Linked DNA regions of Homo sapiens: region 1 is linked to region 2. The links come from fine-mapping of genetic effects on gene expression. A gene starts in region 2. The other region holds a variant in brackets. All regions are shown on one strand. Distances are from middle to middle. Region 1 overlaps LYPLA1-TCEA1 (LYPLA1-TCEA1 readthrough). Region 2 holds the start of LYPLA1 (lysophospholipase 1).

Region 1 (5,376 bases), 48 kb before region 2:
ATGACTGCTAACTTATGACTCAATATGAATTAACTCATTTAAATCCCCAAGCATTCAAATGTTACTTTTCTTGAAAATATCACATGAAAAAAGTTACAAATATGGCGCTGATCACTGCTTCTAGACACCTACCTGTTGACACGAACTGTGCATCATACCTTCATAGGTTTTAAAGGTCACATTGGCTGGATTCACCAATGTTTTTAGTTTTTCCACCGTAAGAGAACCAAACATCAGGGGAACCAAAGGGTCACAATCCCCGTGGCACTGGAGAATAGAAATATCTCTATTAGCACCACCGATAGGACCCTGCAAAAAGCAAAAGAAGAAATAGTTTTATTTTTGTAAAAGTATAGGACACTATGCCAGGCATTTAAAATTGTACATAAATATGCATATATATAACATATTAGAAGTTACATTTGGCCAAAAAAATAAAATTCCTTCATCCATATACTCACCACATCCCTTTGACTTCTATAGGATGTATGATCACCTTGCCTCATATTATAATATATATCTTCCCAGTGAATGAGTTCCTTGAAGCAGATTATATATACATTTTTTTGTTTCGTTTAGTTTTTTTGAGACGGAGTCTTGCTCTGTTGCCCAGGCTGGAGTGCAGTGGCGTGATCTCAGCTCACTGCAACCTCTGCCTCCCAGGTTCAAGCAATTCTCCTGCCTCAGCCTCCCAAGTAGCTGGGATTACAGGCACGTGCCACCACGCCCAGCTAATTTTTTTGTATTTTTTAGTAGAGACAGGGTTTCACTGTGTTACCCAGGATGGTCTCAATCTCCTGACCTTGTGATCCACCTGCCTTGGCCTCCGAAAGTGCTGGGATTACAGGCGTGAGCCACTGCACCCAGCCAAGCAGATTATATTTTAATCCATCTTTATATTTTCAGCTTTTTTTTGTTTGTTTGGTTGGTTGTTTTAGTATTTTGAGTTGCTGTTTTATTCAGCTATCTTTTTTTTTTTTTTTCCCCCAAAGACAGAGTCTTGCTCTGTTACCCAGGCTGGAGTGAAGTGGCACAATCGTGGCTCACTGCAACTTCCACCTCCTGGGTTCAAGTGATTCTCATGCCTCAGCCTCCTGAGTAGCTGGGATTATAGGTGTGCACCACGACGCCCAGCTAATTTCTGTATTTTTAGTAGCCATGGGGTTTCACCATGTTGGCCAGGCTGGTCTTGAACTCCTGACCTGAGGTAATCCACCCGCCTCAGCCTCCCAAAGTGCTGGGATTACAGGCATGAGCCACCGCACCTGGTCTAAAAATAAGTATGATTTCTATATGTTAAAAAAAGTCCTAATTTTCATATATATCCTAAAATGTATCAAATCCTTCTAATATAAGATTTGTGACAATAAGGTTTCTTTCTAATTCCATTCTATGTACTCCACAATACAGACAGTATAGCGTACAGAAATAAGGCCTAGTAATACATCACAAAAGTCTAAGAAAATTATTTTTAAAAAAGGATGAGTGCTGTAAGTGGAGGACTTGGTGATGGTGATGTGTCAGTGCAGCATTACTGACTGCAGCAAAAACATGGCTGTGGAGGTGGGGATGCTGATGGTGGGGAGGCTGTGCATGTGTGGGGACAGGAGGTAGATAGTAACTCTGTACCTTCTGCTCAGTTTTGCTGTGAATTTAGAACTTCTCCAAAAAATAAAGTTTATTAATAAAAAAAAATAAGATGACTTTATCTCCAACAATATCTACTAGCTACCTTTAGCTCAGTAATCTCATGTTGAGTGCATCAACCAAGTTACCTGTGGAAAGGAAGCCCGAAGTGGAAGCCAGCAACTGAGTGCAGTGACACCTGCCAGTTTCTGCTGTGTGGTAAGGGCAGTATATAAAGATAAAGCTCCTCCCTGAAAAGACAAGCAGGGAAAGTCAATGGAACACACATGCTTGCCCACAGCAATTTAGGGAATATCTTGTTACTAATGATATCCATAAAAAAATCAAACTTGGTGGCTGGTGTCAAATCAAATCAGGCAAATATCGGAAATACAAACACACCCCACCGTGTCCTAAAGGATGCGGTTCTCTACACCAGAGAACATACAGACTTCCTTTCCGACGAGACATAGTTTGTACCATGGGAAACTGCTGCACTTACAACATGCCTTACGAATATTCTGAATTTATATTTTCTCCTTTGCAGAATTTTAGGCATAAAATCCAATCTGCTCTTAAATTGGTATTACTTTTTTTTTTTTTTTTGAGATGGAGTTTCACTCTTGTTGCCCAGGCTGGAGAGTAATGGTGCAATCTTGGCTCACCACAACCTCCGCCTCCTGAGTTCAAGCGATTCTCCTGCCTCAGCCTCCCGAGTAGCTGGGATTACAGGCATGCACCACCACACCCGGCTAATTTTGTATTTTTGGTAGAGACGGGGTTTCTCCATGTTGGTTAGGCTGGTCTCAAACTCCCGACCTCAGGTGATCCACGCGCCTCAGCCTCCCAAAGTGTTGGGATTACAGGTGTGAGCCACCGTGCCTGGCCCTTAAATTGGTATTACTTTCTAAATGAGAATTTAAGATAATAATAACTATTTAGCAGACACCTTCAGAGTATCTGCCTACCCAGCTCACAACATCCCACATTCTGGAAGCTGTACTCCT[G/C]CCAGCATCCAGAAGCCCCATCACTCTGACCATGCCCATGGGTTACTGCAACACATGAGTACACGAGAGCCTTTCACATCCCAGGCAGTGATGTTTTCTCCTGGCACTGTGGAAATGGGATTCGATGACCACCAGTCACTCTCTGTGTGGCTACACCTGTAACATGTAAATTCAAGAGCTGGAAAAGCTATAGGCTGCAAAAGCCAAGATGGCCAATTGTTTATGGAAAGGTAAATGAAACAGACAAGCAAAGAAACAAGAGATGAGAGATGGTGAGCAAGGCCCAACTGCTTTTCAATTTCTAGCTACTTCCTGAGGCCTTGCCTCATTTTCCTCCTCAGTTTCCTTGATAGGATGCCACAGACTCATTGCTTACTCCTTGCTTGAGGTATTGAGTTGGTTTCTATATACTGTAATGAATGAATATCAAATATACAGACTCCCACATGAACTTGTTATTCTGGATCATTATTATTATTATTTTTGAGACAGAGTCTCAGCTCTGTTGCCCAGGCTGGAGTATAGTGGTGCGATCTTGGCTCACTGCAACCTCTGGCTCCTGGGTTCAAGTGATTTTCCTGCTTCAGCCTCCGGAGTAGCTGGAGTTACAGAGGCGTGCACCACTATGCCCGGCTAATTTTTGTATTTTTAGTAGAGACAGGGTTTCACCATGTTGGCTGGGCTGGTCTCGAACTCCTGACCTCAAGTGATCCACCCACCTTGGCCTCCCAAAGTGCTGGGATTACAGGCGTGAGCCACCGTGCCTGGCCTGGATCATTAATTTCTGTCCCTATGTTTATGTCACAATGTGTATTACAATATACATTATCTGTGAATTTCAACAAACACCAAATCAGTAACACCTTTTCACTATATTGTATCAACAAATCTTTCTACTGAATTCTATCTTCTAAATAATTTCAGAATTCTGACATCTCCCTAATTAAGGTAATCCAAACATCTCCCTAATTAAGGTAATCCAAACACTAAGTTGCTAACTTAGAAGATTTACAGATGATAAGTTAGAGCATCTGGGGACTGGTTCCATGGCAAACAGCTTATATGCCGCAGTAGCCATGAAAGAAAGGTCCGTATGAGGAAGCTACGTCTGTGGAGGGAGTACAGAAAGCAGGGGAAAAAGTACAGAGACAAAGAAAAATGCCAAAAATAAACACCACATATTCATACCTAAAACCTGTAATACGTGAAGGTAAAGGGAAGAAATTCTCTTGTCTTCCACTTTACTGTTCCTATCAGTAGTCTCCTCCTATAGAGGGGACTCATGCCTGTGTTATCAGTTTTAATTAATTAAAAGGATAAACTGTGTTAACTTAGAAATTTAATTACATGTGTACATGTGTATTATAGTTCTTTCAAGAAGAAATTAATTAGTTCCAGTACACTGAAACTTAATTAAACATCAAAGGTAAGTGTATCAGTCAAGATTCTATAACATCAAAAAAGACTACTCTATAGAAAGGATTAATGCACAGACTTCTAAATAAGTATACTGATGGTACTGACATTCCACTCAAATTTTATCTTACCTGAGAAAACCCTCCCAAAATAATTCTGTTAGAAGGAATGCCATTCTTCACTTCTTGATCAATCAAAGCTTTTACTAAAAACAACATGAAAGTTAGTCAGCAATACTTTCAGAGTTAAGCCCACTGATAAAATTTAAATTAGGAAAAAATTAGTAATAGAAAAGCGCAATTACTTTTAAGGTGGAAATGAGTGAAAAATTCAAAGCACTTCATTAAAATACAAAATTAGAATGTATTTTCATATGCCAACGGAGAACAACGTGAAAAGGAAATTTTAAAAAAATCAAATTTCCGATAGTCACACATAAAATTAAATACCTAGGAATTAAACAAAGAAGTGAACGGTCTCTATAATGAAAACTATAAAACACTGATGAAAGAGGACACCAAAAAATGGAAAAAAGATTCCATGGTCATGGATAAGAAGAACCAATAACAATATTGATTGTTATTGTTCATGAATTCTTCTAATCCATGACCATGGAATATTTTTCCCAAATCACCCAAAGCAATCTACAGATTCAATGCAATCTCTATGAAAATACCAATGACAATCTTCACAGAAATAGAAAAACAATCCTAATTATTTTTTTTTTTTTTTTGAGACAAAGTCTCGCTCTGTCACCCAGGCTGGAGTGCAGTGGCGTGATCTTGGCTCACTGCAAGCTCCGCCTACTGGATTCATGCCATTCTCCTGCCTCAGCCTCCCAAGTAGCTGGGACTACGGGTGCCCACCACCATGCCCGGCTAATTTTTTGTATTTTTAGTAGAGACGAGGTTTCACCGTGTTAGCCAGGATGGTCGATCTCCTGAACTCGAGATCCGCCCGCCTCGGCCTCCCAAAGTACTAGGATTACAGGCGTGAGCCACCGTGCCTAGCCCCCTAAAATTTATATGGAATCACGAAAGACTCAGAGTAGCCAAAGCTACCCTAAGCAAAAAGAATAAAACTAGAGGAATCACATTACTTTACTTCAAATTATACTACAGAGCTATAGTAACCAAAACTGCATGGTACTGGCATAAAAACAGACACACAGACTAAAGGAACAGAATAGAGAACCCAGAAACAAATCTATACACACACACCTACAGTGAATTCATTTTTGACAAAGGTGTCAAGAACATACACTGGGGAAAAGACAGTCTCTTCAATAAAAATGGTCCTGGGAAAACTGGATATCCATATGCAGAAG
Region 2 (5,376 bases):
AAAAAAGAATGGTGTACAATTTTAAACTTATAAAGTATTTCTGGAATTTTTCATTTAGTATTTTCAAACCACAGTTAACCACGGGTAACTGAAACCATGGGAAGCAAAACTGCAGGTAAGGGGAGACTACAATATCTTAAGTATTAAATTGCCACTTGTCAGGCTGACAGGTTCGAAGTTTCATCATGCACTCATGGAACCAATCTAGAGTCAGCCTTTCCTTAGCATTATCCCACCAAATAATTTCAGAACTGGAGACCTTTGTTTTTTCTTTTATCACAACAGGTTAAAAAGAAGGATACTTTTTTAATATAAACTTAACTTTTGGTCAAGATGTAATGGATGTTCTTGGTATTTTTGATCCTAATAGTCTTCACCATTTTTACTTTTAGCTTCAGTCTGTGGAATCTGCCTAGACTGAAGTTTTTTTTTTTTTGCTTGAACTAATCATTCAGGCATAGAAGTGCTCATTATTGGCAAAGTTAGAGGATAGCAACCTTCTCCCTGACTTGCAACATCAAGAAAGGTTTGGCCATAAAATAGAGATTCTGCTATTCGAGTTTCATTTGGTAAAATAAGTTCATCATTTTCACAGGACCACTGGATTGCCAGAAAGAGTGCTGCAACCTTTTCTGTAACTCCATACAAAGTTTGTATTACATAACTCGACTTATTAGGCAAAAAATAGGAATCACTTTTAAGTGGTGGCTCACGCCTGTAATCCCAGCACTTTGGGAGGCTCAGGTGGGTGGATCATTTGAGGTCAGGAGTTCGAGACCAGCGTAACCAACATGGCAAAACTCTGTCTCTACTAAAAATACAAAAATTAGCTGGCATGGTGGCAAGCAACTGTAGTCCCAGCTACTCGGGAGACCCAGGAACCCAGAAGGTGGAGGTTGCAGTGAGTCAAGATCACGCCACTGCCCTCCAGCCAGGGCAACACAGCAGACCCTGTCTCCAAACAAACAAACAAAAATCTAGCCTAATGGCATTTTTTTTTTTTTTGAGTCTCACTCTGTGGCCCAGGCTGGAGTGCAGTCGTGCAATCTTGGCTCACTGAAGCCTCTGCCTCCCAGGTTCAAGTGATTCTCTTCTCTCAGCCTCCCTAGCAGCTGGGATTACAGGCATGCACCACCACACCCGGGTAATTTTTATATTTTTAGTAGAGATGGGGTTTCACCATATTGGCCAAGCTGGTGTCGAACTCTTGACATCAAGTGAACTACCCACCTCGGCCTCCCAAAGTGCTGGGATTACAGGTGTGAGCCACCGCGCCCGGCCCCAATGGTTCATTTTAAAGAAAATTTAGTCGTTCTGGGGCTACTTTATCAAAATTTATTTATCTTCAGTTTTCCTCTATTTCTGCAATTTTTCAACAACATTCATATTTTGCTTAAGTTTCACAGATTATCACCAATTTAAATATAAAAACAAAAACATCTCAATATAGAAAAAGCTTGAGTAAAAGATAAATCATGTATCTAAAGTTAGTACAAAAGGCCAGGCTCAGGCAGCTCCCACCTCTAATCTCTGTGCTTTGAGAGGCTGAGGCTGAAGGATCACTTGAGCCCAGGAGTTCAAAGCTGCAGTGAGCTAAGATCCTGCAACTGCACTCCAGCCTGGGCGACAGAGAGAGCCCTTGTCTCTAAAAATAATAACAAAAGAAAAAAGCAAACAAACAAAAAATAAAATAAAAATAAGTAGTTAGTACAACAAATTGTTTGATAAGCCTCCAAATAAATCTTTGAGTTGCCTCCCCTGCCTTTCAACTCATTAGAGTGAACATCTAATCCCTCTATTCAGAATGCTGCATGCCTTATGTTGCCACTAGTTCTCTTATCAAAATCAACTAGTTCTTCTCTTCAATCTGCTCTGAAATTTTAACTGCTCTGGAAAGCTCTCAATTGCACACCGTCCCTACTAACATTCCACGGATCTCTGGTATCCAATACCCAAAGCAACTAATGAGGAATTTGAAATTTTAATATGTTCCAGAAACCAGAGTTAAAAAATCAATAAACTCACGATGATAAGGGGAAAATTCTGAGGGTTTTCAAAACATAAAATCACCGCACTGTAAGATACATTAACTGGCAATCTTAAAATACCATTTTAGCGCCCTTAAACATTAAACCTTTGAACGCGTAAACAAAAGTTGCATGACCCAGTTTCATTACTGTTACTATTAATAATAATGGTACCTACCCAGTATCTCCCAATCCATGCAGGAAAATCACCTATAAGAGAAGAGGAAAATTAATAAGCAATGCCTAAATAAGCCCACACAGGATTGTTACACACTAGCTTTGCTTAAGGTGGAAAACGGAACGAAACCTACGAGAGAATTACACAACACTATCTTCGGCGACTTAATCTTTATCGACCTCTTTTAAATGGCAAAAATTCTGATCAACTTCTCCCTTTATTTCCTGAGATAATGAATGGGGGGGGGGTAGCACTGAGAGGTCCCAGTTAGACATTGAGTGCAAATGATCACATTCTAAGAAAAACAGTTTATCTCTTTCAAGTGAAATCAGGAACATCTCACATATCCTGTAGAATTTTTCCACTGCAAAAGCAAGCTTCCGGAGGCAAAAATAAGTTTGACTTTTCATACACGAGTTTTCTAAAAAACAGTACGTCTGACCTTGTAGGACACTCAATCTTCAAACTTCTTTCATTGAGGATAAGAGTGCGAGGTGACAATAAGGCGATTTCCTGGCGGACTTAGGTTTCCCTCACCCACACACCAGGCAGAAACACGCTGCAGAGGCTGACGCCGTGCCCTAGGCCGGCCCGCGGGGGTCCCGGGGCCACACTTCCTCCGCAATGCAGGGAGGAGCTGGGGACTGGCCCTCGCGCCGGCTGTGACCCCCCGGCTGCCCCCGCCCCCCGCGGACCCGGCCGCGCGGACCATTCGCACCCCACCCGGGCCGGGAGGAGCGTCCTCGTCCGCAGGCCGCCACGCGCCCGCAACGCCCACCCCGCGCGAGGGGCAACCACCGGTGGCCGGCCCAGTGGACCCCTCCGAGCCCACGCCTACGCCACTCACCGCAGCGGTGGCCTTCCGGGCGGCGGGCACGATGGCGGGCAGCGGGGTTGACATGTTATTGCCGCACATACACCGCCTCAGCTCACAGCGCAAGCGGAAGGAAGAGCGGGCGCCCGGCCGCGGCCCAAGGGCGTGCGAGCGGCGAGTCCCGGCCGGCCCCACCGGGCGCACGCTCAGGCGCGTGCGCGCCAACGCGGCCCCGCGCTACCTTCCGCGCGCGCCCGCGCGTCCAGGGTCCGCCCTGCCCTGCCCCTCGCCCGCCGCCCCTCCCTCGGCACCTCACAATGTCCGGGCGGCTCCCTCCCTCCGATTGGCTGCGGCGGCAGCGCGGACCTGGCTGCGCTTTCGCCACACCACGCAGCCTGCGCATGCTCAGTGCTGGCTAGGGAAAATGTGCTCTCAGGTGCAGGCTGAGGGCTGGTCTCTTGGGTCTTGGTTTAGGTTTTTGCTTTTCTGGCGCTGTAGTGAAAAGAATGAGCCCCAGAGCCAATTCACCCAACCCAACCCCAGGTGCTCCTTGGTTTCCTGCGGCCGGGGTCTATCCATTTGTAAAAGTCTGGATGGACTGGGAGACGTTGATGGAGCTTTTGCAGTATTTCCGTTTGGGGCTACAGCAGTATGTAGATTTGGGTTCAACTTACCTTCTTTAAACTTTAGTTGGAAAGGGTAACATTTGTCACCAGAAATCCACTACTTCCCTAACTTGATCGACAACACTTACTGATGTACGGATATTGACACAGTACAGGTTTAAGTGAGAGGTAAAGCCAGCTGGTCTTCTGGGTCGGTTGGGGACTTGGAGAACTTTTCTGTCTTACAAGAGGATTGTAAAATGTACCAACAGCACTCTGTAGCTAGGATTGTAAAATGCACCAATCAGCACTTTGTGGCTAGCTAGAGGTTTGTAAAATGCACCAATCAGTACCCTGTAAAACGGGCTAATCAGTGTTCTGTAAAGTGGACCAATCCGCAGGACTTGGGCCGGGACAAATAAGGAAATAAAAGCTGGCCACGCCCCCCATCCCCTAGCTGGCAGTGGCAGCCCTGGGTCCCCTTCCACACTGTGGAAAGTTTGTTCTTTCACTCTTCACAATAAATCTTGCTGCTGCTGCTCACTCTTTGGGTCTGTGGGACCTTTAAGAGCTGTAACACTCCCAGCACTTTGGGAGGCCGAGGCGGGTGGATCAGGAGGTCAGGTGATCGAGACCATCCTGCCTTAACACGGTGAGACCTCGTCTCTACTAAAAATACAAAAAAAAAAAATTGGCCGGTCGTGTAGTCCAAGCTACTTGGGAGGCTGAGGCAGGGGAATGGCGTGAACCTGAGAGGCAGAGCTTGTAGTGACCTGAGATCGCGTCACTGCACTCCAGCCTGGGAGACAGAGAGAGACCTTGTCTCAAAAAAAAAAAAAAAAAAAAAAAAAAACTGTAACACTCACCACGAAGGTGACAAGCTTTATTCTTGAAGTCAGCGAGACCATGAACCCACCGGAAGGAACCAACTCTGGACACATAAGCATGAGACTAGACTGCCCTTTTCTGCACAGGTGCCTTTATGGCCTAAAATGTAGTTACTCAACAAATGTGTTGCATATCAACTACATGGTAAGATCTGGAAGAGAGCACAAGATAGAAACACTTAAAGCCAAAATGCCCTGACCTTCAGAAGTTTACAATTCAGTGAAGGACATACTGGAGGCCGGGCGCAGTGGCTCAAACCTGTAATCCCAGCACTTTGGGAGGCCGAGGTGGGCGGATCACGAGGTCAGGAGATTGAGACCATCCTGGCTCACACGGTGAAAACCCGTCTCTACTAACAATACAAAAAAAAAAAAAAATTAGCTGGGTGTGGTGGTGGTTGCCTGTAGTCCCAGCTACTCGGGAGGCTAAGGCAGGAGAATGGCATGAACCCAGGAGGCGGAGCTTGCAGTGAGCCAAGATAGTACCACTGCACTCCAGCCTGGGCAACAGAGCAGGACTCCATCTGAAAAAAAAAAGGACATACTGGATACCATCCTTAGAGAGTAAGGTTCGGAAGAAAGCTGTAAAAAAAACAACACTCCATTTCTTTCACACGGTAACCAGTGTCAGAGGCGTGTGAACCAGAGCAACTCCATCTTAAATAGGGGCTGAGTAAAGTAAGGCTGAAACCTATTGGGCTGCATTCCCAGACGGTTAAGGCATTCTAAGTCACAGGATGAGATAGAACGTCAGCGCAAAATATAGCTTATAAAGATCTTGCTGATAAAACAGGATGCAGTAAAGAAGCCGGCCAAAACCCACCAAAACTAAGATGGCAATGAGAGTGAACTCTGGTCATCCTCA

Evidence for each region. PIP is the estimated chance that this variant, and not a neighbour inherited with it, causes the effect. A credible set is the group of variants that fine-mapping cannot tell apart.
Region 1: its variant is the best candidate, but not a certain one, in a credible set for the expression of LYPLA1 in blood mononuclear cells (TOPMed, PIP 0.80).

What each region holds. Positions count from the first base shown.
Region 1 is chr8:54,050,880-54,056,255 of GRCh38, forward strand. LYPLA1-TCEA1 (LYPLA1-TCEA1 readthrough) reads right to left here. Exons shown (of 21, transcript NM_001425842.1): 6 at 4,181-4,254; 7 at 1,776-1,877; 8 at 133-309. LYPLA1 (lysophospholipase 1) reads right to left here. Exons shown (of 9, transcript NM_006330.4): 6 at 4,181-4,254; 7 at 1,776-1,877; 8 at 133-309. Among named protein-coding and RNA genes, the nearest start is that of TCEA1, 31 kb to the left of the region's middle. The variant G/C (reference allele first, on the strand shown) is at 2,634.
Region 2 is chr8:54,098,703-54,104,078 of GRCh38, forward strand. LYPLA1 (lysophospholipase 1) reads right to left here and starts at 3,245. Exons shown (of 9, transcript NM_006330.4): 1 at 3,053-3,245; 2 at 2,206-2,237. The coding sequence starts at 3,121. LYPLA1-TCEA1 (LYPLA1-TCEA1 readthrough) reads right to left here and starts at 3,245. Exons shown (of 21, transcript NM_001425842.1): 1 at 3,053-3,245; 2 at 2,206-2,237. RefSeq lists a silencer at 2,799-3,368.